Linked DNA regions of Homo sapiens. The protein of the gene in region 1 interacts with the protein of each later gene in a pairwise test. Each region holds a gene or a part of one and is shown in the gene's direction. Other genes may lie near its edges.

Region 1 (4,386 bases):
AGGATGAGGCAGACAGATCACTTGAGGTCAGGAGTTTGAGATCAGGCTGGCCAACATGGTGAAACCCCGTGTCTACTAAAAATACAAAAATTAGCCGGGCGTGGTGGCACACACCTGTAGTCCCAGCTACTTGGGAGGCTGAGGTGGAAGAATCACTTGAACCCGGAAGGCAGAGGTTGCAGTGAGGTGACATCGAACCACTGCACTCTAGCCTGGGTGACAGAGTGAGACTCCAGCTCAAAAAAAAAAAAAAAAAAAAAGATGGATGTCCATGAGTGGTTAGAATTAGAAGAAATCTTAAATAAGGACATGATGTTGCTGTGGCATGGGGAGGCCACGTCAGTCTAGGGTTGGAAGCTAACTAACTTTCCTCCTACCTAGAGAGGTATGGAGAGAGGCTAGATGCTAGATGGGGCATTCAGCCAGTGGGGTCCACATGGTTGGCTTTTTTTTTTTTTGATAAGAGAACTGAATGACAGGATATTTCTGAAACTTTTGTGACATTTCTTGAAGTGATTAGGAACTTGACAGGGTATTTCTCAACTGGAGATGCTGTATTAATTAAAACATTGACTTCAGGACTTCAGGTAATGGAAAGTAATTCAGATCTGCTTTGCTTTTTTTTTTTTTTTTTTTTTTTTTTTAGGGAGGAGATGGAGTCTTGCTTTGTCACCCAGGCTGGAGTGCAGTGGCACAATCTCGGCTCACTGTAACCTGCGCTTCCTGGGTTCAAACGATTCTCCTGCCTCAGCCTCCCCGAGTAGCTGGGATTACAGGCACCCGCCACCACACCTGGCTAATTTTTGCATTTTTAGTAGAGACGAGGTATCACCATGTTGGTCAGGCTGGTCTCGAACTCCTGACCACAAGTGATCTGCCTGCCTTGGCCTCCCAAAGTGCTGGCCCAGATCTGCTTAAGCAAAAAAAAAAAAGCATTTATTGGAAAGATAAAGAAATATCCTACAGAACCCAGTGGCAGGAATGAGGTGAGGTCTCAGGAGCTAGAAACTTTAGTTCTTTTTTCCTCTCTCATCTCATCTGTCCTCTCTACATCTCCATTCTTATTTTATAGATTGCCGTTCTTTGGTCTTCATGGCAGGTACGCAGCCCCCACTGCTTGTGAGTGTATGTGACACAGGGCCAGCTACCTCAAGGAAGTGACTCTTAGTTGACTGACTGGCTCAGCTTGACTGCCTCTAATCTAACTGTAGCTAGTGTGGGGGTGGAGCACACAAAATCTTTGGTACAAATATAGCTGTTACGAATCCACTTCTGTGTCTCTGAGGACGGAAGAAGGCAAGTCCTGAGAAGGGGGCATATCATCATGAGCTGGTTAGATCCTTTAGAAGGTTTTTCCTAGAGATGTGACTAACTCCTCTAGAGATACCAACCACAGTCCATGGGGTCTGTAACAAAATGTAACACCTCTTTCTATACTGTTTATCCCTTCATTTTATGTGTACAGTAAGGGATACTGTTTATCCCTTCATTTCTGTAGGGCAGCACAGCTGGGTTTTTGTAGATGCTTTGTAATTACAATGATGAAACAGGCTGGGCATGGTGGCTCACGCCTGTAATCCCAGCACTTTGGGAGGCCAAAGCGGGCGGATCACTTGAGGTCAGCAGTTAGAGACCAGCCTGGCCAACATGGTGAAATCCCATCTCTACAAAAAAAAAAAAATACAAAACTTAGCCCAGTGTGGTGGCGGGCGTCTGTGATCCCAGCTACTCAGGAGGCTGAGGCAGAGAATTGCTTCAACTCGGGAGACGGAGGTTGCAGTGAGCCAAGATTGTGCCACTGCACTCCAGCCTGGGCAGTAGAGTGATACTGTCTCAAAAAAAAAAAAAAAAAAAAAAAAAGGAAAAGAAAAAGAGATTGATCTGTGGTTATATCTTTTAATTTCTCTCTATCATGCTCAGGCTCAAAACTGAAGGAGATCTTTGACAAGATCCACAGCCTGCTCTCTGGAAAACCTGTTCAATCTGGTGGGCGCTCTGTGTCTGTCACACTTAACCCACAGGGGCTGGACTTTGTTCAATACAAACTGGCAGAGAAATTTGTGGTGAGAAACCTTGTTGCTAGAGGTATGGGAAGCAGAGGCTGGTGTACAAGATTTCAGCCTTTTTCTGGTATTAAGTTAAAATTGTACCCACCTCTATGTTCTCAGAAACAAGGCGAGGAGGAAGTGGCCTCTCACCATGAAGCAGCATTCCCCATTGCAGTTGTGGCATCCGGGATCTGGGAGCTCCACCCCAGAGTGGGGGACCTCATTCTTGCTCATCTACATAAGAAGTGTCCTTACTCTGTTCCTTTCTATCCCACTTTCAAGGAGGGAATGGCTTTGGAAGACTATCAGAGGTAAAGTTGTTTTTCTCCCTACTCACTATCCCTAGAGTGATTAATGAAATATAAATAGAATTGGAATTTGTTTTTCCCTCCTCACAGCTCCTATTACGTACCTTGAATGTTCTATCAGAAATATAATGTCTTTCGGCCGGGTGCAGTGGCTCATGCCTGTAATCCCAACATTTTGGGAGGCCAAGTTGGGTGGATTGCCTGAGCTCAGGAGTTTGAGACCAGCCTGGGCAACATGGAGAAACGCCATCTCTACTAAAAATACCAAAAATTAGCCAGGTGTAATGGTGCACACCTGTAGTCCCAGCTACTCAGGAGGCTGAGGCACGAGAATTGCTTGAACCCGGAAGGCGGAGGTCGCAGTGAGCCAAGATCGCACCAGTATACTCCAGCCTGGGTGACACAGCAAGAGTGTGTCTCAAAAAAGAAAGAAAAAATATATATACATAGTCTTTTATGTAAACTGGAGAGCCTTTGGGATTTGTGAACTTAGGTGCCAGTAGTCAATGTAGTTTAGTGGAAAGGATACTGGGGTCTTGGAATTTTATCCCTGCTTTGTCATTTAATACCTTTGCAAAAATGGACAAATCATTTAGTCTTTTTGAGCATCTTTTCCTGATTTTTAAATGAGGGTAATGACATCTATTACCTCCTGTGAATTTACCTCATGGCTTACATGAAGCTCAGATTTGATGATGGATATGAGTGCTTGGTAAACAAAGTATTCTACAGATGTAATAATATGTAATAATATATATACATATTTTTTATTTTTTTTATTTTTTTTTGAGACAGCGTCTCGCTTTGTCACCCAGGCTGGAGTGCAGTGGCGTGATCTCAGCTCACTGCAACCTCTGCCTCCTGGGTTCAAGTGATTATCCTGCCTCAGCCTCCCGAGTAGCTGGGACTACAGGCGCCCACCACCACGCCCAGCTAATTTTTATACTTTTAATAGAGATGGGGTTTCACCATGTTGGCCAGGATGGTCTCGATCTCTTGACCTTGTGATCTGCCCGCCTTGGCCTCCCAAAGTGCTGGGATTACAGGCGTGAGCCACCACGCCCGGCCTGTAATAATATATTAATAGTAATGCTGAGTGTAATAATATATTGTTATTTTTTAGCCATAAAAAGTAATCTCTGGGCCAGGTGCAGTGCCTCATGCCTGTAATTACTTTAACAATTTGGGAGGTTGAAGCAGAAGGATCGCTTGAGCCCAGGAGTTCAAGACCAGCCTGGGTAACATAGTGAGACCCTGTCTCTACAAAATTAGCCAGGTGTTGGCTGGGCGCGGTGGCTCACGCCTGTAATCCCAGCACTTTGGGAAGCCAAGGCCGCCAAAGCGGGCGGATCACCTGAGGCCAAGAGTTTGAGACCAGCCTGGCCAATATGGGGAAAACCCGTTTCTACTAAAAATACAAAAAATTAGCTGGGCATGGTGGCAGGCACCTGTAATCCCAGCCACTCAGGAGGTTGAGGCAGGAAAATCGCTTGTACCCAGGAGGTGGAGGTTGCACTGAGCCGAGATCATGCCATTGCACTCCAGCCTGGGCAACAAGAGTGAAACTCTGTCTCAAAAAAAAAAAAAAAAGGCCAGGCGCGGTGGCTCACATTTGTAATCCCAGCACTTTGTGAGGCTGAGGCGGGCAGATCACCTGAGGTCAATAGTTCAAGACCAGCCTGGCCAACATGGTGAAACCCTGTCTCTACTAAAAATACAAAAAATTAGCCAGGTGTGGTGGCAGGTGCCTTAATCACAGCTACTCGGGAGGCAGAGGCAGAAGAATCGCTTGAACCCGAGAGGCGGAGATTGCCTGAGATCGTGCTATTGCTTTCTAGCCTGGGCGACAAGATGGAAATTCCATCTCAAAAAAAAAAATTAGCCGGCTATGGTGGCATGTGCCTGTGGTCCTAGCTACTCAGGAGGCTGAGGCGGGAGGATCACTTGAACCTGGGTGGTGAAGTTTGCAGTGAGCCTTGATCATACCACTGTACTCCAGCCTGGGTGACAGAGACTCTGTTTCCCAAAAA
Region 2 (4,727 bases), on another chromosome or scaffold:
AAAAGGGATTTGATTCAATAATTTGATTTATCACTACTTGAAAATTACATTTTCTTCCTCAGTACTGGATGGCAATGAGATGAAAGCAGCTTTCCTGGCTCTCAACTTCCCTTCTTCATCAATTTTTCCAGCGTTTCATAAGGCCTACACTAAAAATTCTAAAACTATATATCACATTAATATAATTACTTATAATTAATCAGCAATTTCACATTATCGTTAAAACCTTTATGGTTAAAAAATGCAAGGTAAGAGAAGAAAAAAACACATTGAACTAGAACTGAACACATTGGTAAAATTAGTGAATACTTTTCATAAGCTTGGATAGAGGAAGAAAGAAGACATCATTTTGCCATGTAACAGGAGACCAATGTTATTTGTGATTTCAGATTGTCTTTGCTGGACTTCTTGGAGTCTTTCTAGCTCCTGCCCTAGCTAACTATGTAAGTCTCACCTTTTCAAGTTTGCTACCAAAATGCATTTGCAAGGAAATGTGATATTAAATCACTCTCAATCTCTTATAAACTTCAGAATATCAACGTCAATGATGACAACAACAATGCTGGAAGTGGGCAGCAGTCAGTGAGTGTCAACAATGAACACAATGTGGCCAATGTTGACAATAACAACGGATGGGACTCCTGGAATTCCATCTGGGATTATGGAAATGTAGGTAGTCAACGTGCAATTTTCACTTTATTGTTTAAAAATACGATTTCTTTTTAACAAAAAATGTGCATGTTAACCATAAAGAAATTAAAAATAAATTCTAATTACACATAGCATACAGTTATAAGTAAAGGTGACCATTTTGCTCATCCGATTTTGTTCCCTAGAGATAACTACTGTTAATAAGTGTTGCATGATCAGTTAAAATTCAAACCAACAAACACTATGTTCAAGGGATTGTGGGTATATACAACAAATATGAACATCCTTTTGCCTTGCCTGCAGATACCCTCAATAATGCTGAAAGACTTATACAACATTACTGCTTCCAAAGCTTAGACTATCTCACTTTGTTTTCAAAGGAGGTTTTACGACCTTCTAAAGAGATTGAAATTGACATTTCACCTAAAACTCGGGAAATGTAAATGACAATATTAATTGGTAAGAGAGGAAAGAAGAAAGAAAGAAGGAAGGAAAGAAAGAAAGAAGGAAGGAAGGAAAGAAAGAAAGAAAGAAAGAAAGAGAGAGAAAGAAAGAAAAAGAAAAAAGAGAGAAAGAGAGAAGGAAAGAAAGAGAGAAGGAAAGGAAAAGAGAAGCAAAGAAAGAGAGGAGCAAAGAAAGGAACACTTAGCACTAGTTAGGAGACCCAACTCTGGAATTATCAGCTATATATTTAACAAACGTTATACTTTTAAATAGCAAACTCTTTATTGTTTCAATTTTATCTGGTCAATTGGAAAAATAATTTTTGTCTTATCTGTCTCCTTGAAATGTGAGGATCAAAGGAGACTAAAACATGATAGCTTTTAAAGTCTATTTCAGTAAAACAGACTTATATAGAGGGGTTTTTATCATGCTGGAACCTGGAAATAAAGCAAACCAGTTAGATGCTCAGTCTCTGCCCTCACAGAATTGCAGTCTGTCCTCACAAATGTCAGCAATAGATATGATTGCCAAGCAGTGCCCCATCCAGTGCTCTTATCCCAGCTCATCACGATCTTGGAGTTCCCATTTCTCTCTGCAGGTGGAACTGACCTCTGATAAGAAAAGCTCCTCGGAGAACACATGCCTCACTATTTGCCATCTACTTTAACAGGGCTTTGCTGCAACCAGACTCTTTCAAAAGAAGACATGCATTGTGCACAAAATGAACAAGGAAGTCATGCCCTCCATTCAATCCCTTGATGCACTGGTCAAGGAAAAGAAGGTAAAAATAAAAGGCTTTTTATTTTTGGTGAGGGGAGAGGTTTTACATCCTTCAGTAAATAACGAGAAGATCACAGTCATTCCCTCTTGACTACAGTATGTTGTAGTGTGCAGCACAAAGGGGGAAGTTATTGGTGATTGCCTGAGGGAAGGCAACTTCTGCCACATCAAATGCTGTGGCTCACACCTACCTCTACAACCGCTGAGCAAAGCACTTGAAACCTTGACTGTTAGAGGAGCAAAGCTCTGGTCACACCAATAGGAGCCTCAGTACTTTGCCAAGGACATTTTTCTGCAAGAGTTAGTTAGGGTTATTAGATTTAGCAAATGAAAATAGAAGATATCCAGTTAGGTTTGAATTTTAGGTAAGCAGCAGGTCTTTTTAGTATAATATATCCTATGCAATATTTGGGATATACTAAAAAAAGATCCATTGTTTATCTGAAATTCAAATGTAACTGGGTATTGTATATTTTGTCTGGCCATACTAATCCAGGTGAGTGGAAAGAAGAGATCCATAATGTTTTAAAATATTTGCCTGAGTTCATATTCCTATAACTGATAAATGAGTACCTTTCATTGACAAGGTAGAGAAAATAAATAAACTGCATTCTCAGAAGATGATTATTACATAGTCTAATCCAAGGAATCTATGATGACCAAATGAGGTCCAAGTTGCAGAATAAATTAAGCCTCAGACTTCTGTGTTTATGAGAAGCTGAGGTTTCAAACCAGCTAAATCCCTTAGGACACTTAGAAATGCTAAGATATACAGAATAAGCTAGAAATGGCTCTTCTTCATCTTGATTATGGAAAAATTTAGCTGAGCAACACTCACTGTTGGCCTCGTATACCCCTCAAGTCAACAAACCACTGGGCTTGGCATTCATTCTCTCCCATTCTTCCTTTCTACCTCTCTTTTCCACACTCAGCTTCAGGGTAAGGGACCAGGAGGACCACCTCCCAAGGGCCTGATGTACTCAGTCAACCCAAACAAAGTCGATGACCTGAGCAAGTTCGGAAAAAACATTGCAAACATGTGTCGTGGGATTCCAACATACATGGCTGAGGAGATGCAAGGTGAGTAGCATCCCTACTGTGCACCCCAAGTTAGTGCTGGTGGGATTGTCAGACTATCCTCGCGCGTGTCCATAGTGGGCACCAGTGATGCAGGGATGGTCATCAAGGCCAACATTTGTGCAGTGCTTGCTCTGTGCCAGGTACTGTTCTATGTGCTTTAAGTGTGTTAACTCGGTTCTTCACAGCAATCTTATAGGTTCTATTTTAATCCTACTTTATGGATGAGGAAACTGAGGTACAGAGAGGTCACAAAATCCTTGCCTGGGTCAATTCCAAGCATTTTGGCTGTGGATTCTGTGCTCTTAAATATTATGGAACACTGCCTTTTAAGTGTGAATCAAGAGTAGACTCAAGTCATATTCAAAAGAATGCATGAATGGCTAAATGAAAGAAGAATGCTAATAGAATCTATTAACTTTCTATAGCTCAGACAATCACTTAATTTCTGGACATTCAAAGAACAGCTGCACACAAACAAAGTGTCTACCTAGGGACCTAACTTAATGGCAATTTTCCAGATCTCTGAATTGATTGATTTCATCACAACAAGTAGATAAACCTTGACATTAGCACATAGCTAGTTTGGAAACCCCTACTCCCCCAATCCCCTCCAAGAAAAGAGTCCTTAAATAGACATTAATATAGGCTTCTTCTTTTCTCTTTATTAGAGGCAAGCCTGTTTTTTTACTCAGGAACGTGCTACACGACCAGTGTACTATGGATTGTGGACATTTCCTTCTGTGGAGACACGGTGGAGAACTAAACAATTTTTTAAAGCCACTATGGATTTAGTCATCTGAATATGCTGTGCAGAAAAAATATGGGCTCCAGTGGTTTTTACCATGTCATTCTGAAATTTTTCTCTACTAGTTATGTTTGATTTCTTTAAGTTTCAATAAAATCATTTAGCATTGAATTCAGTGTATACTCACATTTCTTACAATTTCTTATGACTTGGAATGCACAGGATCAAAAATGCAATGTGGTGGTGGCAAGTTGTTGAAGTGCATTAGACTCAACTGCTAGCCTATATTCAAGACCTGTCTCCTGTAAAGAACCCCTTCAGGTGCTTCAGACACCACTAACCACAACCCTGGGAATGGTTCCAATACTCTCCAACTGCTCTGAAGGCTGCTCTATAGTTGTTGTGCACAGTAACGTTTCAGATCAGCAAGGACAGAAATTCACTCAGAGTCACATAAGCAAGAAAGGGTGGTTTATTGCAAGGATATAAGAATATCTCAAAAAATCTGAGGGCAAGAAAAGCAGCTGGTTATCAAAAAAACTACATCCAGGAACTCTGCTGACACCAAGACCCAAGTCTGCTTCTCTCCCTGAAGCCACGCGTTACCTTTTCTCTCTTCTTCTCTAAATTTTACTTCCCTCTTTTTCGCATATTGCGGATGGATTTTTTTGTGCTCATGGCACAGAATGGCTGACCCAAATTTTCAGCCTCATCTCTCGTGTTTACATGTCTTTCCAGTTCAAGAGGTAATAACTCATATTGAATCCCAATTCCATTTTCCTTGATCCTGTTTGGCTCAAAGTTAGCAACTTCCATTCACTGATGGCCAGGAAAGTGAAAGGTCTCAGAGAAAATAGAGACTCTAAATATTGTGTATTACAATATAAAACTGTTAACTTTTCAAAGCTGCCCCCATACATCTTTTTTTAATCCCCAGTGCCATAGGGGAATATCTAATCCATTCTCATGTCTTCAGGTGAAATAGCCACAAATAATCCTAACAAATAAAACTAAAGACATTGATTCT
Region 3 (4,386 bases), on another chromosome or scaffold:
ACTTTGTATTTTTGGTAGAGATGGGGTTTATCCATGTTGGTCAGGCTGGTCTCGAACTCCTGACCTCAGGTGATCTGCCCGCCTCGGCCCCCCAAAGTACTGGGATTACAGGCATGAGCCACTGCGCCTGGCCTATTTATTTATTTTTTTGAGACAGAATCTTGCTCTGTCACCCAGGCTGGAGCATTGGTGCAATCTCAGCTCACTGCACTCTCCGCCTCCCAGGCTCAAGCGATCCTCCCCACCTCAGCCTCCCGAGTAGCTGGGACTATATAGATGTATGCTACCAGGCCTGGCTAATTTTTATATTTTTAGTAGAGGTGTGGTCTCGCCATGTTGCCCAAGCTGGTCTCCAACTCCTGAGCTCAAGTCATCCACCCGCTTCTGCCTCCCAATGTGTTGGGATTATAGGCATGAGCCATCATGCCCGGCCTGCAGCTGTCTCTTAATGGAACTCCTGCACCACATTTTGCCAGTAGCAGGAGGATTCGAAAAAAAAGTGCTTTGAAATGTAAGGGAGGGAGAAAAGGGGAAAGGAACTTACTACATTCCAATATGTTAGTAGTGAGCTAGTACCTTCCAGAATTCCAGGTTCTAGAGAGTGGTTGTGGCAGAGTAATTGTGTATATCTAGGGCTGAGCAAGAACCAAAAACAGAAGGGGTGTGAGGTAGCCTCAGTCTCAGTGTTGGTCTGTCCAGTGTGACTTACTGAGTGCTATGATGACCATTCCAATCTCCCTTCTCACCTCTGTTTCCTCTTCACACACTGGCCTTCTCATGATTCCTGACTGTACTAGACATCCTCTTTCTGCCTGAGAATTTTGTTTTCTTTCTTTCTTTCTTTCTTTTTTGAGACAGGGTCTTGCTCTGTCACCAAGGCTAGAGTGCAGTGGTGTGTCATAGCTCACTGCAGCCTTGACCTCCTGGGCTCAAGCGATCCTCGCACCTCAGCCTCCTAAGTAGCTGGGACCACAGGGACATGCCACCATGCCTGGCTAATTTTTTAATTTTTTGGAGAGACAGGGTCTCACTGTGTTGCCCAGGCTTGTCTTGAACTCCTGGGCTCAAGCGATCCTCCTGCTTCAGCCTCCGAAAGTGTTGAGATTATAGGCATGAGCTACCGTTTCAGTGTTCTCTCTGCCTGGGTCACTTCTACGTTTTTCCCGGCTGGCTTCTTCTCATCCATTTTTTTTTTTTGAGACGGAGTCTCGCTCTGTCACCCAGGCTAGAGTGCAGTGGCGCAATCTCGGCTCACTGCAAGCTCCGCCTCCCAGGTTCATGCCATTCTCCTGCCTCAGCCTCCTGAGTAGCTGGGACTACAGGCGCCCACCACCACACCCGGCTAATTTTTTTGTATTTTTTTAGTAGAGACGGGGTTTCACCGTGTTAGCCAGATTGGTCTTGATCTTCTGACCTAGTGATCCACCTGCCTCAGCCTCCCAAAGTGCTGGGATTACAGGCGTGAGCCACCCCGTGCGCCCAGCCCTTCTCAACCTTTAAGTGTTTGCTTACGGGACACTTCCTCCAGAAAGCCTTCCCTGGCCTCCCAGTCTAAAATAGGTCTCCTGTGTTCTGTCTCATGGAATTAGTTTCTTCTCCTTTCCAACATACAGCCCAGTTTGTAATTATGTATTTATTTGTGTTTTGATGTGTTTGATGAACGTCTTCTCCAACTAGAAGTAAACCATGTTTATTAAGTAACTGCATAATCAGTGCGTGGCTCATTGTAGATGCACATTAAATATTTGGCAAAGGAATGAATGAAAGTCCACCATGATTCTACTGATTTCTTTCGTGGCCTTCTCTGTAACTGTACTGATCGGTTTTGGTTGTGGTTGTTAGATTGTTGCCTGCCCTGATGTGCTTCCTCGGAAGATGGCAACACCTGGAGCAGTGCAGGAGTCCTGCAGCCCCCATCCCCTGACCGTGGACACCCAGCCTGAGCAAGCGCCACAGAAGCCTCGTCTCCTGGAGGAAAATGGTGAGGCTCAGTGATTCAGTGGAACTGATATAGCTCAAGAGTGGGTGCCTTGGCCATGTGGCAGGCACTATCTGCGGGAGAGAGACTCTAGGCTGAGCAGCCTCTCTACAGCCTGCAGGGTCTAGAAGCAGGGAAAGGCCAGGGACCTGGAGTTGAGTCCCTGGTGTTCAATGAAAGCCATTCCTAGAATGGCTAGGAATTACACCAGCTTCTTTTTTTTTCTTTTATTTATTTATTTATTTATTATTATTATACTTTAAGTTGTAGGGTACATGTGCACAATGTGCAGGTTAGTTACATATGTATACATGTGCCATGCTTGTGTGCTGCACCCACTAACTCGTCATCTAGCATTAGGTATATCTCCCAATGCTATCCCTCCCCCCTCCCCCCACCCCACAACAGTCCCCAGAGTGTGATGTTCCCCTTCCTGTGTCCATGTGTTCTCATTGTTCAGTTCCCACCTATGAGTGAGAATATGCGGTGTTTGGTTTTTTGTTCTTGCGATAGTTTACTGAAAATGATGGTTTCCAATTTCATCCATGTCCCTACAAAGGACATGAACTCATCATTTTTTATGGCTGCACAGTATTCCATGGTGTACTGCCACATTTTCTTAATCCAGTCTATCATTGTTGGACATTTGGGAAAGACACATGCACACGTATGTTTATTGCTGAATTACACCAGTTTCATTAAAAACCTACAACGCAAATGATGACAGCTCTGGGTACAGGGACTGTTAAAAGATCTACACGTCTTTTACAAAAGTATCACAGATTTTTGCCTTTCTGTCATAGATTGTCTTTCTTTTATTTTTGAGACAGAGTCTCACCCTGTTGCCTGGGATGGAGGGCAGTGGTGCGATCTTGGCTCACTGCAGCCTCTGCCTCCCAGGTTCAAGTGATACCTCCACCTCAGCCTCCTGAGTAGCTGGGACTACAGGTGCCTGCCACCATGCCCAGCTAATTTTTGGATTTTTAGTAAAGATGGGGTTTCACCATGTTAGCCAAGCTAGTCTTGAACTCCTGGCCTCAAGTGATCACCTACCTTGTCCTGCCAAAGTGCTGGCATTAGAGGTGTGAGCCACTGCGCTCAGCCTCCCTCATAGATTTTCTTGTCTTAATGCTTATGTTAAAAAAACAAAAAAACAAGGCCGGGCTCAGTGGCTCACACTTGTAATCCCTGCACTTTGGGAGGCAAAGGTGGGTGGATCACCTGAGGTCAGGAGTTCAAGACCAGCCTGGCCAACATGATGAAACCCCGTCATGATGAAACACCGTCTCTACTAAAAATACAAAAAATTAGCTGGGCATGGTGGTGCGTGCCTGTAATCCCAGCTACTCAGGAGGCTGAGGCATGAGAATCGTTTGAACCCAGGAGGCAAAGGTTGCAGTGAGCTGAGACCGTGGCACTGGACTCCAGCCTGGGCAACAAGAGCAAAACTCCGTCTCAAAAAAGAAAAGAATACTGTCACACAATGCTTTTAGCAAATTTAGTCCTTCTAGCAAAATGTGATGGTCCAGAATCTCTTATTATCTTATTATTACAAAATACTGTGTGATGAAGTCCTTGCTGTTGAATGACTCACAAGATAAGAATGCCATTTCCCTTTTTGAAATTAGAAATACATTGTTCATCATTGATTCTTGAGTTTAAGAAAATTTATCTAGGATGTTATCATTTGAAACTCATTCTAGAATCTCTGTTACACTTTCAGTTTCATGATTCTCATTAGAGAGTACAGCTGTCTTTCTGTGTCATCTACTGAGTTGCCTAATAATAGTCATCCTCTTCAAATTTTCCTCTCTTTGCCAATGTGGGCAGCAAATGAAAAATTTGGAATTCTCAACCGTGTTCAATGAAAGCTAAACAAAGGTGTTAGCGATCTTTTTGGTATAAAAGAAAGTAGCTTCATGCCTGTAATTCCAGCATTTTTGGAGGCCAAAGCAGGTGGATCTCTTGAGCCCAGGAGTTTGATACCATCCTGGGCAATGTGGCGAAAACTCACCTCTACAAAAAATACAAAAATTGGCCGTGTGCAGTGGCTCATGCCTGTAATCCCAGCACTTTGGGAGGCCAAGGCGGGCAGATCACCTGAGGTCAGGAATTTGAGACCAGCCTGACCAACATGGCAAAACCCCATCTCTACTAAAAATATAAAAAATTAGCCGGGCGTGGTGGCAGATGCCTGTAATCCTAGTAGCTACTCAGGAGGCTGAGTCAGGAGAATTGCTTGAACCCGGGAGTTGGAGGTTGCAGTGAGCTGAGATCGCACCACTGCACTCCAGCCTGGGTGACAAGAGCAAAACTCTGTCTCAAAAAAAAAAAAAAATGTATTAGCTAGGCATGGTGGCACACGCCTGTGGTCCCGGCTATACCAGAGGCTGAGGTGGGAGATTGCT
Region 4 (4,386 bases), on another chromosome or scaffold:
GCATCAGGGCAGCTCCGGGCAGAGAGGCACAGGGCCCGTGGGAGCCTCGGTCTCTAGTGGGCTGTGGAGGCCACATGGGAGGACAGTGTCTTGCACCAGATCCCCATGGCCAATTCACCGCCACTGGGACTGGTCTGAGATTCCCTGAGGCTGGAGCGGAGGCTTCGAGAACCTCTCCAGAGGAGTCCAGGCGGGGGGTGGGGGCGGGGCAGAGTGGAATCCTGTCGTCATTGCATTTTCCACAGAATCTAGAACCTCTGTTGTCCCACAAGTAGGCTGATTTCTGATCGCACAGATGGGTCAGAGTAAAACCTGTAAGTGAGGAATACGTTCTCTCCAAAACCCAGATAGACCTAAAAAGTGTTAGGCTTGCTCTGGCCGTGGGTGTTGATAAATGAGGTATGCTTCCTGCCTGGGCTGCTGCTTCAAATAACGACCAGAAATATGAACAAAGTGGTGGGGACTTGAGTCTAGTGGGGTGCAGCAGCTCGCCCCACCTGGAAAGTTCTGCAGCAGGCCCACGAGCCTGTCCCCGTGCCTGGCTCTTCCGAAAGCGCAAATTAAATCTCTAAAATCTAAAACCCTCTCATCCCCAAGGCCAGCTACCCTCTTGCACTTCATAATGTCATAGGAATTATTTTTCCCCCATCCTACACTTCAGTAGGATTTTCATTATCGTTATGTCACAGAGAGATCCATTCTTTTCCATTGGTTCGTTTGTCCATCCTTCTGCTAATACTGTACTGGCAAGATTGACAGCTCTTAAATCCTTGCCCTGTGTTAGGTAAGCCTTCACCCTGTTCTTCGGAAAGTTTTGGCTATTTTTAGACTCTTTTTCTCTGTTAGATTTGGAAAGTAGTTTTGTCAAGTCCTAAAAAGTCTCATTAAGAGAGGATCTCACTCTGTTGCCCAGACTGGAGTACAGTGGTGTGATCACAGCTCACTGAAACCTCCTGGGCTCAAGTGATCCTGCTGCCTCAGCCTCCCTAGTAGCTAGGACTGCAGGCACATGCCATCATGCCTGGCTAATTTTAAAAATAATAAAAAAATTGTAGACTGTGTCTCCTTATGTCGCCCAGGGTGGTCTCAAATTCCTGGCCTCAAGCAGTCTTCCTGCCTCGGCCTCCCAAAATGCTGGGATTATGGGCATGAACCACCTCACAGGGCCCCAATCAAGATTTGTTTCTCCATTGAAATCCTTTACTAGCCTTAAGTACTTATTTAACTTTGGATTTTCCCATAGTATGTATCAGCTTTTAAAAATTAATTTTCCAACTATTATGAAGTAGAAACATAATGCAATTTCTTGGAATCTTGGTAAAAATCTTTTTCTAGGATTATCTCTTTGTTCTGTTGGGGTTTTATGTGCATAATTCTTAGAAATTTGCAAAAAGACAAGTTTATGTTTTATAATTCTTGTATATTTCCTGGTGGTGCTGGAACTAGTATAACGTTGACTAGAGGTGAGGTCATGGGCGTCTTCATTTTGTGTATCATGTTTTTGAGGAAGACAGTGAACTTCACATTCTTTATGTTTTTTAAAAACCAGCTTTACTGACATATAGAACGTACAGCCATTTAACGTGCACATTTCATTGTTGTTGTTATTTTTTTGGTTTTTTTTTTTTTTTTTGAGACGGAGTCTTGCTCTGTCGCCCAGGCTGGAGTGCAGTAGCGCGCACTCGAAGCTCCGCCTCCCCAGTAGCTGGGACTACAGGCACCCGTCACCACGCCCGGCTAATTTTTTGCATTTTTAGTAGAGATAGCTAGGATGATCTCGACCTCCTGACCTCGTGATCCGCCCTCCTCGGCCTCCCAAAGTGCTGGGATGACAGGTGTGAGCCACTGCGCCCGGCCATTGGTTTTTACAGTCACAGAATCCTGCAACCAAGACCACAGTCAACTTGAGGACATTTCCATCACCTCACGAAGAAACCCCCAGACCCTTCAGTTATCACTCTCCTATTGCCCCGGAGCCCCTCCACCACCCTAAGAAATGACTCATCTGCCTCTGTCTCTAGAGATTTGGCTGTTCTTGACATTTCGTATGTTGTTTCTCTTTTTTTCCTTTTTATTCTTTTGTTCTTTTGACATTTCATATGAATGGAATCCTAATATGTGTTCTTTTCTGACGGCTTCTCTCACTGGGCATGTTTTCAGGGTCATTCATGTTTTAGCCTGTTAGAGCTCCATTCCTTACATGGCTGAGTCATATCTACTGTGTGGGCTGTACCACATTTTGTTTATCAGTTGATCAACTTTGAGTTGTTTCCACCTTTTGGCTATTGTGAATAGTGCTGCTGTGAACATTTGGGTACAAATGTTTCTTTAAATGTTTTCAAATTTCTTCAGTATATATTTAGGAGTGGAATTTCCATTTGATAATACTATGTTAACTTTTTTTCCTTATAATAGATTTTATTTTATTTATTTTTGTTTTTTTTTTTTTTTTTGAGACAGAGTCTCGCTCTGTCGCCCAGGCTGGAGTGCAGTGGCGCGATCTCGGCTCACTGCAAGCTCTGCCTCCTGGGTTCACGCCATTCTCCTGCCTCAGCCTCCCGAGTAGCTGGGACTACAGGCGCCCGACACCACGCCCGGCTAATTTTTTGTATTTTTAGTAGAGACGGGGTTTCACCATGTTAGCCAGGATAGTCTTGACGTCGTGATCCGCACGCCTCGGCCTCCCAAAGTGCTAGGATTACAGGCATGAGCCTCTGTGCCTGGCCGGTATCTTGTTTTAATTTGCATTTCCCTGATGACATGATGTGGAGCATTTTTTATATACTCATCTGCCATCTATATCTTCACAGATGAGTTGTCTTAAGGTCTTTAGCCTCCACACCTGGCTAATTTTTTCTTAATTTTAGAAATGGGGTCTCACTGTGTTGCCCAGGGTGATGTGAAACTCCTGAGCTCAAGCAATCCTCCCACCTTGGCCTCCCAACATGCTGGGATTACAGGCATGTGCCACCACACCTGGCCTATTTGTACATGCTTTACTCTACATCGCACTCTCCTGATGACTACAGCTCTCCAGAAAGCCTGGAAAATGCATAGTGTCAGTCTTCCAACTTGAACCTTCCCCTTCAATACTGTGTTGGTATTTTGAGTCTTTTACCTCTCCATATAAACTTTACAATCAGTTTGTCAATATCCACCAAATAACTTGCTGGGATTTTGATTGGGATTGTGTTGAATCTATAGATCAAGTTGGGAAGAACCAATGTCTTGACAATATTGGGTCTTCTATACGTGGACATGGAATAACTATTCACTTAGTTCTTTGATTTCTTCTGTCAGAGTTTTACAATTTTCCTAAGATCTTGTGCACATTTTGTTAGATTTATACCTGTATGTTTTATTTTAGGGCAATGCTGATTTAATTCCAGTATTGTCTAAGAGCATATGATGTACGATATTCTTTTAAACTTGTTAAGGTGTTTTATGTCCCAAAATACAGTCTAGGTTGAGGAGTGTTCCACGTGAGCTTGACAAGAATGTGTTTTCTGCTGTTGTTGAAGTTGTCTACAGACATTCATCATTGGGGGTGCTGTTGAATTCAACTCTGTGCTTATTGATGTTCCACGTGCTTGATCTGTTTCTTTTCTTTTCTTTTTTTTTTTTTTTTTTTTTGAGACAGAGTCTCACTCTGTTTCCCAGGCTGGAGTGCAGTGGCGCGATCTCTGCTCACTGCAAGCGCCGCCTCCTGGGTTCACGCCATTCTCCTGCCTCAGCCTCCCCAGCAGCTGGGACTACAGGTACTCCCCGCCATGCCCAGCTAATTTTTTGTATTTTTAGTAGAGACAGGGTTTCACCATGTTAGCCACGATGGTCTCAATCTCCTGACATCGTGATCTGCCCGCCTCGGCCTCCCGAAGTGTTGGGGTTACAGGCGTGAGCCAATGCGCCTGGCCTAATTTTTATATTTTTAGTAGAGACGGGGTTTCCCTGTGTTGGCCAGGATGGTCTCCATCTCCTGACGTCGTGATCCGCCCGCCTCGGCCTCCGGAAGTGCTGGGATGACGGGCGTGAGCCACCGGGCCCGGCCTGGTTACTGTTTTCTGTTTTTGTTGCCCTGGTTCGTTGTTCCTTATTTTGTCTTCCACTCTTTTTCTGCCTTTTTTGGTTTTGATTGCATGTTTTGTGTGATTCCATTTTTTCTCCTTTCTTAGCAAGTCAGGTATGCTTCTCTTTCCTTTTTTTAGTGATAGCCCTAGAGATATTTATTTATTTATTTGGCAGGGTCTTGCTCTATCAGCCAGGTTGGAGTGCAGTGGTACAATCATGGCTCACTGCAGCCTTAATCTCCTGGGCTCAAGCCATCCTGTTACCTCAGCTTCCCAAGTAGCTAGGACCACAGGGTATATGCCTCCAAGCCCAGCTTAT
Region 5 (4,828 bases), on another chromosome or scaffold:
AAATGAGCAAAGAAGTAAAGTCAATTATCTATGCTTTTATCATAAGAACCCTGAAAAAGAAGAGTAAAATAAACCCAAAGTTAATAAACATTTAAGCCAATAATAAAAATAATGAAAATCATGAAATAGAAAAATGAACAAACAATAGAGACAATCAGTGGTCAATTTTTCTGTACTCCATGAACAAAACTTCAGTTCAGAATGATTTTATATTTAAATATATATCCAGAATCACAAAGATCTTAGAAGAAAAAATTAGGAAAATATAGGAATAAAGTGGGAACTCTGTGGGAATAAAAATCAGAAAGTAATTGCCTACCAGGTAAACTCGGGGGAGGGCAGGCAATTGACTAAGAACAGGCAGATAAAACTTTCTGGAGTGAAGGAAATGGTGGTCTTCTTTTCGTTGGTACTTACATGGACATATATAACTGTCAAGGTTCATTGACAATGAACACTTAAGTGTACACTGAACGCTTAAGATCTGGGCCTTGTAATGCCCAGATTACATCTACTTAAAAAAACTACATCTCTATTTTTTTAAGTAGAGAAAAGTGTCTTGGGGAGTTTATGGCAGTGATGTTTGGGCAGACTGGGGCATAGGTTTCAGAAGCATTCATAGCATCTTCAGTTCAACAATTTGCTAAGAATGGTTTTGCAGCCAAAAATGTAAGATGAGTGCAAATATCTATGATTAGAGTCATTGGGCATACAACTACAAATCCCCACACTTGTATTACAGGCCATATGATTAATTCGTTATCACTAGATACCTTTCCTTCAATGAGGTTCTTCCATTAGGAACCCAGAGCTCTCCAGGGAAAAATTGCAATTGAGGTTTTGGATATATTGGGTGGAAAAGAAAGTCACCTCACATAAAACTTAGTGATTGGAGCTGTCACCATTGAAAATTTCTAAACTTTGCAAGACAGCAGTGACGTTTCAAATGACACTCTCAGAGAGTTGATAATGGGCTAAAATAGATCTCCCTCCAGGTGGATTTACTGTACAAGGACAACATTTACATTGCACTTGGAGACTTCTCCCAGTTTGGTTTAAGTTCACAGATTGCAGATCCCAGACAGCTGGTATCAACTGACCAGTGTTCTGTTAAGGCTAAAGCCAAGACTCTTTATCACACTGTGGCCTTAAGATTGGATTTCTCTTCCTGTTCCTGGGAAGAATTAGAGATATAACCTAAAGGTCACTATTATTCTGAGAAAAGGGATTCTGGAGGAGGAGGGAGCAATGAGTATGTGGCAGGAGTTCAAGGTAATAAGGGCTGAGACACAAGCCACAGAGCATAAAGCTCCAGTCCTTCCTCCAGGGATGAGGCAGTAAGGACTTGGACTCCTCTGTCCAGCTTTTAACAATCTAAGTTACGGTTAGAGCTTTCTCCTTTTCTTTCAACTACTCCTGGCAGTTGTGGGGTCATGGAATTTTTGTAAAAAATGGGGTGGAGGAAAATAAGGCATCTGCTGAGTGTATAACCATTTTACCTCTTGTTTTTAGCCCTCTTCTGGGTCACGCTAGAATCAGATCTGCTCTCCAGCATCTTCTGTTTCCTGGCAAGTGTTTCCTGCTACTTTGGATTGGCCACGATGGGCTGGAGCTGCCTTGTGACAGGAGCAGGAGGGCTTCTGGGTCAGAGGATCGTCCGCCTGTTGGTGGAAGAGAAGGAACTGAAGGAGATCAGGGCCTTGGACAAGGCCTTCAGACCAGAATTGAGAGAGGAATTTTCTAGTAAGTAAACTTGAGTCATGGGTCTGTGGCTCCATCTTAAACTCTGCATGGGTGTGGGGAGGTTGACCTTGTCTAGCAAGTTAAGGAAAGTTGTAGCCAAATGAAAGCCAGTCACACATCTAAAGTCATCAGAAAGGAAATAGAATAAAATGGTATAGTGTGAAAGATACTGGATGGGGTGTCCAGAGACTGGATTCTGGCCCTGACGCAGAACTTGAGAGGCAGCCATGTCAGCCTCAAGGCCCCTTTTCTTCTCTTCTAGAGAGTCACACATGAGTTCTCCTTCTTGTCTACAACTCTTATGTTCTGAAGCTTTTTGTCTTGGCGATTGCTGTGCGACATTCACAAAGGACATCATTTACCTGGAGACCTCACCAGTGGGTCCTGCCTGTCTAGACTGCCCCAGGCTTCATTTCATTTTATAGCTTCCTTAGTATCTTTAGTGAGGGCAAAATAAAAGGAAGTGAAGGTACGGATGTGTGTGTAATTGTGTGTGTGTGTCAGACAGAGAAAGAAAATGAGGGGGAAAGAAGGTCAGAGACAGAGAATGAGAAAGACAGAGAATGAATGAGAAAGATAGTGTGAGGGAGAGCATCAGCAAGAGAGAGAGAGTGAAAGTGAGAGAGATCATCAGTGAGAGAGAGAGAAAGAGAGAAAGAGAGCATGCACAAGTGCACGGCACAGAGCAGAGACAGAGTAAAAGGCAGTATGAGGCCAACATGCCTCATTTATATTTCTCATATATAGCCTTTTTAAAAAAAAACCATTTGTATCTGTTGTTCAATACTCCAAATAAATTGACTGCAGAATTTGCTGTAGTAACTCTTTGTGCAAATAACCCTGTGAGGAAGGTAGAAAAGGGGTCACCTCCAACTGGACAATGAACCCATCAAGTTCCAGAAACATAAAGTTACTTGCCAAGAACAGCTGATTAATGTGTAGCAGAGCTCAGACCAGAGCTTCATTCCAGAAGCTTCATCACTTGACCCCCGGGCTAATCCTTGGTGGGTCTTCAGTCTCTCCCTTTGCCTCTCTGTGTGCCCCAAACCAATTCCATGTTTTCCTCCCAACCCAGGGGACTGGGGGAACTATGTATCTTCTTCATGCAGGTTCTGGCTGCCTAGAAGGTCCTGCCCTGTTCACACAGAAGCTCCCCTTGACACTCTCCTCTTCTTTCACTCTTCTCTGACCTCTTTAAATGTCCAATTTCCTCCACTCTCTGTTCTAATAGTGAACAGATATTAACACATGACTGATATTAAATGTTTGTAATCCTTATGTCTCAGCAATATTTACAATCTAACATCTGATACCAGGAAAAAGCAATGCTCAGTCTAGAGGAAGAGTTCTGCTATGGTGAAAATGCAGGGAGCATAATGGATGGGCAGGGCCTGTATGAAGATAAAAACAGAGAATCCTTTCAGTGTTCTTTCTGTGCCAGGCACTGTGCTAAAGGTTTTGCATGTGCTGACTCATTTACTTCCCATAACAACCCTATGAGATGGGTAATACTATTATCCTCCTTTTTTATAGATGAGGAGACAGACACAGAGAGGTTAATCAACTTGTCGAAGGTCCCAAGTTAGATTACGGCAAAGCTGGATTTGAATCCAGGCAGTCTAGTGCAGCTTCTGTGCTCTTAAGTAGTAGTTTGTCTAGCAGCTTCTCTGAGCCTCCCTCCAGCCCAACACACAACACAAAAGCAACTGAATTTAGTCTACATGAAACACTTGCCAAGTCCACAGTGCCTTGGAGAAGGAGGGAGCTAAGACTCCATCAAAAATTGCGCTTTTCTGGTCTCTCTAGATCCATGGAAACTCACCGGGGAAGAGTCATTTTCTATCGGCTTTGGACTTCTGCTATGAAATGGCAATTCCTTTGAGCCAGTCTGTCTAAAGTCGGCAGCAAAGGAGAAGCAGATGAAGGGAGTAGAAAAGGTAGAGGTGGAAATACAACCAGAGAAAATTCCACTCTCGGGCTGACACCCACCTCCTCCCCAGCAGCCTCTTCCCTGCCTCCACCATTCCAGGGCCTTCTTGGAGTTGCCTGACAGTGGGAAGGGGCTGGGAGTAGACAAAACAAGGCAGAGGCATCAGAAGAGCAAATGGTCCCACCTGTATCCCAGGAAGGAATTTCTCCAGCCTTGAATTTTTCATTCTGAATTTCGCTCTCACTGTTCTTTGGCCTTTGTGGGCATTTTCAGTTAAACTGGCTTATTCTTACTCTTTCTCAGAAAAGTTGATTCTAAACAGCTATTCCTGCACCTGGGGTACAGGGTACAAAAATGGCAGGTGGAATGGGCAGGTTTGAGCCTTCACTAGAAAATTGACTTTAGATCTGTCCCTTAACCTCTCTGAGCCTCAGTTTCCTCACCAATAAAGTGGGACTCAGAATACCTACCTCACGAGATAGCTGTAAAAGGAAATAAGCAAGCTGTGAGCCGTATGCAGATTATAAAGCACAAATGAGTGTAGAGTATTTATCTGAGCTCCATGTAGCATGGTGTTCATTTTGTGGGCTAATTCCAGGTGACAACTTTACCGGCAGCGTCACTACCTGTGGATTTCAGAGGAGCCTGAAGATATGGATGTTACATCCGCTGCCCTTGGCTAGACATTAGACAGCTGAGATGTTAGTTCATTGGTGGCTAACTCATTTTCAGCATTGCTATCTGCTTTTTATGATATCTGATAAAAGTTTCTCAATGAAATTAATCATTTAAGCCCATCTGCAATTCCTGAGTAATGGCTCCACTCTCCTCCCAGTTGCCCAAGCAGGAAACTGTAAGGGTGATTTTGTCTCCTTTTCCTCTCATCCCAGCTCCAGTAGGTACCAGGACCTTCAAGGTGAGGTCTGAAATTCAAACCTGGAGTGCATCTCTCCCCTCCTCTGCTTCCACTGCTGGACCCTGGTTCCAGTCCTCATCTAAACTTTGGCACAGACATTCTGATTAATCTCTTGATCACCTGGCTTTCTCATTTCCCCTATACCAGTCTGTTTTATATCCTCAAGCCAAGGTAAACTTCCTACGCCACAACTCTGCGTCTGTTTATCTTTTATTATTATTACTATTATTATTATTATT
Region 6 (4,245 bases), on another chromosome or scaffold:
TCTGCCTAATGCTTTTCTCTCTCTCTCTCTCTCTCTCTCTCTCTCTCTCTCTCTCTCTCTCTCTCTCTCCCCCTCTCCCTCTCTCCCCCTGCCCCCTCTTCCCCCCATGTCTCATTCTCTCTCTGCTTTCTATTCCTGCTCTTTGGGGCTGGCTTTTTCCCATTAGCTTTCTCCAAGCCCTACACCTGCCAGTCAGAGTCCCAAGAAACCTCCAGCAAAGGACCCATTAGCGGATCTTAACATCAAGGATTTCTTGTAAACAATTTAAGGTATCTAATATTGAGCTTTTCCTGTAGGCTTGTAATAATGAGCTATACAATGCTTAGCTATTTCAGAGGTACTCATTATTTCTGCGTTTTGAATAGCTGTGTATAATAGTAATAATTTGAGTGTTTATACTTTTAAATTTGATATTAAAAGCTCTCTTTAAGAGTTTTTTAAATCTTAATTTATGTAACTAGGAGGGAAAGTAACCTCCAAATTGTCCTTATCCTGGAAAGCACAACGATTAGCTTTAATAAAGCAAAAAGGTGCCCAAGCTACTTGGTAAATTAGAAAATTACCACTTTATTACATGATGACTTGAATTTATAGAAAGCTAACATTTATACTATTGCATTTAGAAATCATCTAAGAATATATTTGACTGCATAATTGTATTTTTATTTTGTTTATCCTTCTTTTGCCTCATAAAGCTTAGATTATTACCCTTTACATTTCTGCATTCAAGCAGAGTTTTAAATTTCTAATGTTCTAGTTTTAAATTTCACAAATTTCATATAATTTATGAAATGACTCATGCTGAAGTTATGGAAGGAAACGAATGAAGGAAAAATGTTTACTGTTGACCCCAGCACCTAACACAGTGGGTAGGTTCTCAACAAATCCTTGCTGAATGGATGAACATAATTTACACGGTACTTTTCACATCCACTTCTCAATAGAACAGTCATGTGAGATAAACTATCCAGATATTTTTTGTCTCCATTTCACAGCTAAAAGAACTGATCCTTGGGCATTAAGGAATTTGCCCAGGGTCCCACAGGGAAGAATTGTAAGAGGCTCAGTGTTTTTGGACTCTTGTCCAATGTTGTTTTCAGTATGCACCTGCTGTGCTACATATATTTCTTAAAACCCTTCCCTAATGTCTACTAAGATTTTTGTGGATTCTTGATTTGTTTTTTTTTTCTTATACAAGATTAATGATGCATTATTCTAAGGTATTAACATCTCAGTCAAGTAAACTCTCCTTATGCCCAACTTTTCTATTCCACTTTGGATTGGCTAATGTAGACATAAGTGAGACAATGAACACTTAATAGTTTCAGGAGTGACCAAGGAAACTGCATAGAGCAGCCTGTATTCACCTCTTACTTAGTAAATGTTGCCCTAATCATATGCCAGGAACTTTGATAAGTACAGGAAACAGATATGCTTGAGACAGTCCTTGCCTGAGAGAGACAGAGACAGACAAAGAGAAAGAGAGACAGAGACAGACAAAGACAGAGACACAGAGAGAATTACTATTTTATGAAGAGTTATCTATGCGGCTAAGCCTTAAGACCCCACAAATGTTTCCAGCAGAAATGAATGATGCATGAATTAGCCAGGGAGATGAGTGGGAAGTGGCTGAGGAAAGGCATCGGGTCGCCAGGGATCTCTCTGTTCTCTTCTATTCTGTCACTGGTTCAGCTGTTTAGAAAGTGACTCATTGAACACCATAACTGAATACATGAAAAAATAATGTAAGGTCATTGCCATGCCCCCTTTTTCTTTAGCTGCCCTTTTTAAAGGTTGGCTGCTCTTAGATACTGAATGCTATACCGAATGTCCTGCTACTAAAATTTCTAATATGTATCTAAATTCAAATTTTTGTTGATATAATTATTATCTAAAATGAAACTATACATCAAAAGTTTTTTTTTAATTTCTGGCTAAACTTTAAAAATTTTAAGCTTGTTTTAAAGAGCTATGAAAAGTATGTAAATTTGAATTTGTCCATGCAGAGACCTTTTTATGTAAAAGTTGTTTTCAGAAACTATGAAGTAAAATTGCAAGGGAGGTAAAATGTTTGAGGACTATGTAATAATCTTGTTTTCTAATTCTAGTTTTTGTTTTCTTTACAGCTGCAATATTTGTGACTGAATAGGAAAATAAATGAGTTTGGAGACTTCAAATAAGATTGATGCTGAGTTTCAAAGGGAGCCACCAGTACCAAACCCAATACTTACTCATAACTTCTCTTCCAAAATGTGTAACACAGCCGTGAAAGTGAACATTAGGAATATGTACTACCTTAGCTGTTATCCCTACTCTTGAAATTGTAGTGTATTTGGATTATTTGTGTATTGTACGATGTAAACAATGAATGGATGTTACTGATGCCGTTAGTGCTTTTTTGGACTTCACCTGAGGACAGATGATGCAGCTGTTGTGTGGCGAGCTATTTGGAAAGACGTCTGTGTTTTTGAAGGTTTCAATGTACATATAACTTTTGAACAAACCCCAAACTCTTCCCATAAATTATCTTTTCTTCTGTATCTCTGTTACAAGCGTAGTGTGATAATACCAGATAATAAGGAAAACACTCATAAATATACAAAACTTTTTCAGTGTGGAGTACATTTTTCCAATCACAGGAACTTCAACTGTTGTGAGAAATGTTTATTTTTGTGGCACTGTATATGTTAAGAAATTTTATTTTAAAAAATATAAAGGTTAACGTCCATAATAAATACTTCTCTTTGAAGCTACCTTATCAAGAACGAAAAATCGTATGGGAAGAATCCCCTATTTATCACTGCTATATTAAAATATATATATTTTAATTATATTTGACAGGTTTTGCATCTAAATTGACCTATTTATTCATTCTTGATTAAATGCACTGAAAAGTAAAGGGTCTGTTTGTGTCATGTTCATGAAAATGCGGTTAGAGAGGTGCTATTCAAGTGATTCTGAAGGCACCCCAAGGTATATCTGTAATTTAAAGATTACTGCAAATATCTTTACTTTACTGTGGGTTTTTAGTACATCTGTTAATTTAGTGTTTCTTTGTGTGTTTTGTAGACTAGTGTTCTTCCATCCTTCAACTGAGCTCAAAGTAGGTTTTGTTGTAACATTGTGATTAGGATTTAAACTAATTCAGAGAATTGTATCTTTTACTGTACATACTGTATTCTTTAAGTTTTAATTTGTTGTCATACTGTCTGTGCTGATGGCTTGGCTTAAGATTTTGATGCATAAATGAGGTCACTGTTGATCAGTGTTGCTAGTAGCTTGGCAGCTCTTCATAAAAGCATATTGGGTTGGAAAGGTGTTTGCCTATTTTTCAAATTATTTAATAGATGTATGGTACCATTTAAAAGTGGTTGTATCTGAATTTACTGTGGGGATAACATACACTGTAATGGGGAAAAATTACCTAAAACCAATTTCAAAATGGCTTTCTTTGTATTTCAGTTTAAAAACCCAGTGCATGTACGCCCTCTGAGATGCAATAAACACCTTGAACAAAGAAATGCAAACATAACGTTTCTCTCTTTGATTATGTTTGGGAAAAAGGTCTGTTTCAAATGACACACACAGCAGACAAAATACTGAAGATTTTAAAATGCTGTTCATGCCAATAGAGTTTTGATTATTTTATAAAAAATTAAAAACAAGGAAAAAGAGCAACTTTAACAAGCCTTCATTAAACTTGGGTCTCTGTAACTGCTGCCAAATGAGTTGAAATTCCATATTTCAAAATGTATATGTATTTTTATGGTGAACTTTCTTTTATTTATTTTTTTAATTGTACTTTAAGTTCTAGGGTACATGTGCACAACGTGCAGGTTTGTTGTTACATATGTATACATGTGCCATGTTGGTGTGCTGCACCCATTAACTCGTCATTTACATTAGGTATATCTCCTAATGCTATTCCTGCCCCCTCCCCCCCACCCCACAACAGGCCCCGGTCTGTGATGTTCCCCTTCCTGTGTCCAAGTGTTCTCATTGTTCGATTCCCACCTATGAGTGAGAACATACGGTGTTTGGTTTTTTGTCCTTGCGATAGCTTGCTGAGAATGATGGTTTCCAGCTTCATCCATGTCCCTACAAAGGACATGAACTCATCCATTTTTATGGCTGCATAGTATTCCACAGTGTATATGTGCCATATTTTCTTAATCCAGTCTATCATTGTTGGACATTTGGGTTGGTTCCAAGTCTTTGCTATTGTGAATAGTGCCACAATAAACA
Region 7 (4,386 bases), on another chromosome or scaffold:
TGGAACATGATGATTTTGAAGGGGTACATGTTGGTGAAACGTGTAAGAATATGGGACATTTTGACTCTGATGTTTTGGACCTAGGGGACATTGACTTCAAGGATATTTTGACTCTATGAATACAAATATTTTATTCAAATTTGTACTAACATTTAAAAATGCTTTTCAAGAAGGTATTTTATGAAATCATCTCTATGCAGATGGTGTAATTTCTTGATCAATTTTCTATAGTACATCAATTAAACTGTTACCAAATCTTTCATTTTTAATGAAAATTATTTTATTGGAATAAATTGTTTTTATTTCTGTTTTATGACAACCCAAACCTGTTTTTCTCTGTGACAAATATTGTCAGTTATAGCTTCTACCATCTTAGAATTTTTCTCATGTCCACTATTTCCATTCAATTTACCCAGGTCACATTTTATAGATCAAAACTTTGTCAAGATTTTATTATTCCTTCTGTTCTGAGCGAATAATACGTGTGATGTATCCCTTTAGCTGCTGTCATTTTACTTTTTGTTGACCATCTTTGCCAGGAATTAGGTAAAAGATGAAGCAAACATAAATATGCAGGATCTGGGTGCATGCCAAGGGTCAAAACATTGCAGTCAAATTGTCTTTGGGGTCACAAGATTGGTCTTCTTGGTTCCATCATTTTATAGGCATCAAACCAAGGCAAGCATTGGTTTTATCCAAAGTGTGAGATCAGATAAAACAGTAGCTGGCCTCTGGCTCACCTAGAGACTTCAGAAAAGTCCCCTAATGTCTCTGCCTGTGCTTTCGTCTCATTGGGGAAGGGGGATGAGGAAGGGGAGAAGCTGTACATGTCACGGACACTCCAAAAGCCACCTCACCCAAGTCTAGCGAGGATTCTTGAGGAAGTAAGATGCAGAATGGTTTGCAGAGAGGCAGGAGGAAGGTATTTCCAAAGTCCTTCAAAATGAAGATGCTAGTTCTGAATTCTCTCTCGAAGGAAATGCAGAAAGATATGGATGAGAAGATGGACATTTTAATAAATACACAGAAGAACTATAAGCTGTAAGTGTAACCTGCACTCGTCTCTCCTCATCCCTAAAGGGTCTCCTCCCTTCCCTTTGTTGGATCCCTTTGGGGTTCAGAGGACACCCAGACTCTTGGAGGAGTTGTCTTTGCTCCTACTGCCCCTGTGACTTGGAGTCAAGGCCTTCCATGGCCACCCGTGTACTGGTTATCTCCTTGTCATGCTGCAAAATGTCTCCCCAACTCTCTGCCCCTCCCTGGCCCTCCTCCCCCAGTCCCCTTAGAAGAGCACCAAAGGAGCAGCAGGAACTCAGGCTGATGGGAAAGACTCACAGAGAACCACAGCTCAGGCCCAAGAAAATGGATGGAGCCAGTGGAGTCAATGGAGCACCCTGTGCTCTTCACAAGAAGACGATGGCACCACAAAAAACAAAACAGGGCTCACTGGATCCCCTTCATCACTGTGGGACCTGCTGCGTAAGTGAAACCCTGCCCGAGCCCAGCACTGGTGCCAGACCCCTGGCTCCGGCTCCCTGGTGACTTCCCCGAGCTTGTGCTGTATCATAGTGAAGGGACAGGTCCGCCCGCTGCTGACTTCTGGGTGCCGCCCGAGCCTGCGCCCTCCCTGACCTGCCTTGCCTTCTAGGCCTGTGGAGCCTCCTTAGCTGTGACCATGCAGGACTTGACCCTGGATGGGCCTACCCGCCAGCTCCACCCTCTTATTCTGTCCTTCCCTTTAGCAAGGGCAGATAAGGTGCCTAGCAGGCTGCCCTTCTTGGACCAGGGGAAATTGATCTTTCTTGTGCCGTTTCTGTCCTCTGCAGGAGAAATGTTTGTTGTGTGCTCTAAAGAACAACTACAATCGGGGTAGGTAGATTCATACAAGATGTGCCTTTTCTCGATCAGGTGCCTTGTTGTCCCCAAGGCCATGTGCTCCCAGCCGCATTCACATCACACCCCTCCTGAGGTTGTGCCAGGAGTAGGGACTGTTAGCAGATGCTGCCACCCAGCATGCTCAGTCATACAGGATGTGGCACCAGGAAGGAGGACTTGGGTCACCCAGCCTAGAGGCTGCTGCCTGGGGCTCCCATGGTGGGGAGGGTGCACCACTAGTGGCGGAACTGACCTTGCCTCAGGTCCTGCCCTTTCTCCCCATCCAGTGGGAAATATTCACACCAGGTCTGGGCACCCTTTTCACCCTTGGCTTCTGGAGCTGCCTTCTGATTTATCTGTACCTCAACCCCGGTGACATCGAATATGTGTTTCCAACCTAGCGCAGCTGCAGAACCTACCAGCAGTTCCGATTCATCACCTCCAAGCTCCTTAAGATGCACAGTCAGGGCTTCTTGTCCTGTTAAATACCACCCCAACCCCAGGCCTCCACTGGAGATTAAAAACCTTCATTCAAAGCCAAAGGGGATGTCATGGTTTTGAGTACCAGTCCAAAACTTGAGTGTGTGGAGGTTGATTATTTTTGGTTCTATATCAGTGTATTTCAGACTCCAACCCTTCCCCCTGCTTCCTGATGGATTGGTGGGAAATTACATCTTAGTCATCTTAGGGTCCTCCCAACCACCACCTCCCTCCATTCCACCTGGGTCTGCAAACGTCCCAGGTCATAGCATGGGGAGGGCCCCTGATGATAGCGGACGCCAGTCTGTGTGGTCTCAGGAGAGACCCTGCTGCCTGGCCCATCCGCTCCCTCCACATAATCAGCCTCCACCTGTGCATGGGGCCAGGGTGTCTTGGGTGATGCAGGGAACCCCTCAGCCTCGAGTTCTGCCTGCACCACACCCCTCTGAGGTCTTGTCACCAAGCAGGACTCAGGTCCCTGCTGCTCATAGGAACTGGGTAGCTTTCTTGGGTTCTGGGGATCCACCCTTCTCACCCCCTTGAAGGTTTCCTCTCCCTCCCTCCACCCCCAAAGGGAACATTCCTTCAGAGGCCTCAGGCCTTTACAAAGGTGGAGAGGAGCCAGTGACCACCCAACCTTCTGTGGGCCACGCTGTGCCTGCCCCAAAGTCCCAGACTGAGGGAAGGTGAAGCTTAACTGCCAGCTTGAAATGAGAGTAAAGAAGATACAGAGCAAACAGTGTTTCAGAAACTGTCCTGCCCTGGGTGTGATTCTTTGGCTTCAATTTGAAGGACGAGGAATGATGGGATTTCATATTTTATTTCACACCAGTTCCTCCTTGTTTCATCTCTTTGCTAAGCTGGCTGCTTCTACCATCTAATAAATAATTGGCCAAGTTCTTTTTTTTTGGAATTTTATTATTATGGTTAATTTTGTGGGTTCATAGTAGGTGTATATATTTATGGGGTACATGAGATGTTTTGACAAAGTTATGCAAGGTGAAATAAGCATGCCATGGAGAATGGGGTATCCATCCCTTCAAGCATTTATCTTTGAGTTGCAAACAATCCAGTTACGCTCTAAGTTATTTGAAAATGTACAGTTATTGACTGTAGTCACCCTGTTGTGCTATCAAATGGTAGGTCTAATTTATTCTATTTTTTGTACCCCTTAACCATCCCTACCGGCCCCCAAGCCCCTGACTACCCTTCCCAGCCTCTGGTAACCATCCTTCTACTCTATATCCATGAGTTTCATTGTTTTCATTTTTAGATCCCACAAATAAGTGAGAACATGCGATGTTTGTCTTTCTGTGCCCGGCTTATTTCACTAAACATAATGATTTCCAGTTCCATCCACATTGTTGCAAACGACAGGAGTTCATTCTTTTTATGGCTGAATAGAACTCAATTGTGTGTGTGTACGATATTTTCCTCATTCATCTGTTGATGACACTTAGGTTGCTTCCGAATCCTGGCTATTGTGAACAGTGATGCAACAAATGTGAGAGTGCAGATATCTCTTCAATATGCTGATTTTCTTTCTTGTAGGTATATACGCTGCAGTGGGACTGCTGGATCTATGGTAGCTCAATTTTTAGTTTTTTGAGGAACAACCTCCAAACTGTTCTCCATAGTGGCTGTACTAATTTACATTCCCACCAACAGTGTACAAAGATTCCCTTTTCTCCGGGTCAAGTTCTTAATGGCTGCAAATTAATGAGCAATGTATTTGGTGCTTCAGATAAATATTTAAAAAACAAAACTCAAAACACATGTAGGCCTTGTTTGCAAGGAGCTTATAGCTTTAAAGGTGAGATGGCAAACATGCAGAATAACAATATGGACCGTGTAGAAATAAGTACAATAATCATAAGCATGTGATGAAAGCAGAAATGGATCAGAAATAGGGAAAAGAAGAAGGGTGGGCAGAACTCTGTATTAGTTCCCTATTGCTGCTGTCACAGATCACCACAAATTTAATGACTTAAGACAACAAGAAATGGGCCTAAGATGGATCTTGTTGGGCTC

The links.
Region 2: the proteins of GLE1 (region 1) and GKN1 interact in binary tests that used the Homo sapiens proteins (3 or more experiments, as listed by UniProt).
Region 3: the proteins of GLE1 (region 1) and ZKSCAN5 interact in binary tests that used the Homo sapiens proteins (3 or more experiments, as listed by UniProt).
Region 4: the proteins of GLE1 (region 1) and ZNF57 interact in binary tests that used the Homo sapiens proteins (3 or more experiments, as listed by UniProt).
Region 5: the proteins of GLE1 (region 1) and HSD3B2 interact in binary tests that used the Homo sapiens proteins (3 or more experiments, as listed by UniProt).
Region 6: the proteins of GLE1 (region 1) and SNAP91 interact in binary tests that used the Homo sapiens proteins (3 or more experiments, as listed by UniProt).
Region 7: the proteins of GLE1 (region 1) and TEX35 interact in binary tests that used the Homo sapiens proteins (3 or more experiments, as listed by UniProt).

The regions. Positions count from the first base shown.
Region 1 is NC_000009.12:128,531,593-128,535,978, forward strand, and holds part of GLE1 (mRNA export factor GLE1), read left to right. Parts: intron 1-1,072; coding exon of another isoform or gene 1,073-1,099; intron 1,100-1,920; coding exon 1,921-2,063; intron 2,064-2,168; coding exon 2,169-2,359; intron 2,360-4,386. UniProt on the Homo sapiens protein: Required for the export of mRNAs containing poly(A) tails from the nucleus into the cytoplasm. May be involved in the terminal step of the mRNA transport through the nuclear pore complex (NPC).
Region 2 is NC_000002.12:68,977,106-68,981,832, forward strand, and holds the end of GKN1 (gastrokine-1 precursor), read left to right. Parts: intron 1-389; coding exon 390-443; intron 444-531; coding exon 532-669; intron 670-1,765; coding exon 1,766-1,876; intron 1,877-2,807; coding exon 2,808-2,955; intron 2,956-3,623; coding exon 3,624-3,718; 3' UTR 3,719-3,871; downstream 3,872-4,727. UniProt on the Homo sapiens protein: Has mitogenic activity and may be involved in maintaining the integrity of the gastric mucosal epithelium.
Region 3 is NC_000007.14:99,510,611-99,514,996, forward strand, and holds part of ZKSCAN5 (zinc finger protein with KRAB and SCAN domains 5), read left to right. Parts: intron 1-1,842; coding exon 1,843-1,981; intron 1,982-4,386. UniProt on the Homo sapiens protein: May be involved in transcriptional regulation.
Region 4 is NC_000019.10:2,906,846-2,911,231, forward strand, and holds part of ZNF57 (zinc finger protein 57), read left to right. Parts: intron 1-262; exon of another isoform or gene 263-314; intron 315-380; exon of another isoform or gene 381-399; intron 400-4,386. UniProt on the Homo sapiens protein: May be involved in transcriptional regulation.
Region 5 is NC_000001.11:119,413,819-119,418,646, forward strand, and holds the start of HSD3B2 (3 beta-hydroxysteroid dehydrogenase/Delta 5-->4-isomerase type 2), read left to right. Parts: upstream 1-1,331; 5' UTR 1,332-1,384; intron 1,385-1,512; 5' UTR 1,513-1,601; coding exon 1,602-1,743; intron 1,744-4,828. UniProt on the Homo sapiens protein: 3-beta-HSD is a bifunctional enzyme, that catalyzes the oxidative conversion of Delta(5)-ene-3-beta-hydroxy steroid, and the oxidative conversion of ketosteroids.
Region 6 is NC_000006.12:83,552,167-83,556,411, reverse strand, and holds the end of SNAP91 (clathrin coat assembly protein AP180), read left to right. Parts: intron 1-166; coding exon 167-259; 3' UTR 260-269; intron 270-2,126; coding exon of another isoform or gene 2,127-2,141; 3' UTR 2,142-3,527; downstream 3,528-4,245. UniProt on the Homo sapiens protein: Adaptins are components of the adapter complexes which link clathrin to receptors in coated vesicles. Clathrin-associated protein complexes are believed to interact with the cytoplasmic tails of membrane proteins, leading to their selection and concentration.
Region 7 is NC_000001.11:178,519,396-178,523,781, forward strand, and holds the end of TEX35 (testis-expressed protein 35), read left to right. Parts: intron 1-976; coding exon 977-1,041; intron 1,042-1,277; coding exon 1,278-1,479; intron 1,480-1,826; coding exon 1,827-1,869; intron 1,870-2,276; coding exon of another isoform or gene 2,277-2,329; exon of another isoform or gene 2,330-2,417; intron 2,418-2,929; coding exon 2,930-3,045; 3' UTR 3,046-3,255; downstream 3,256-4,386.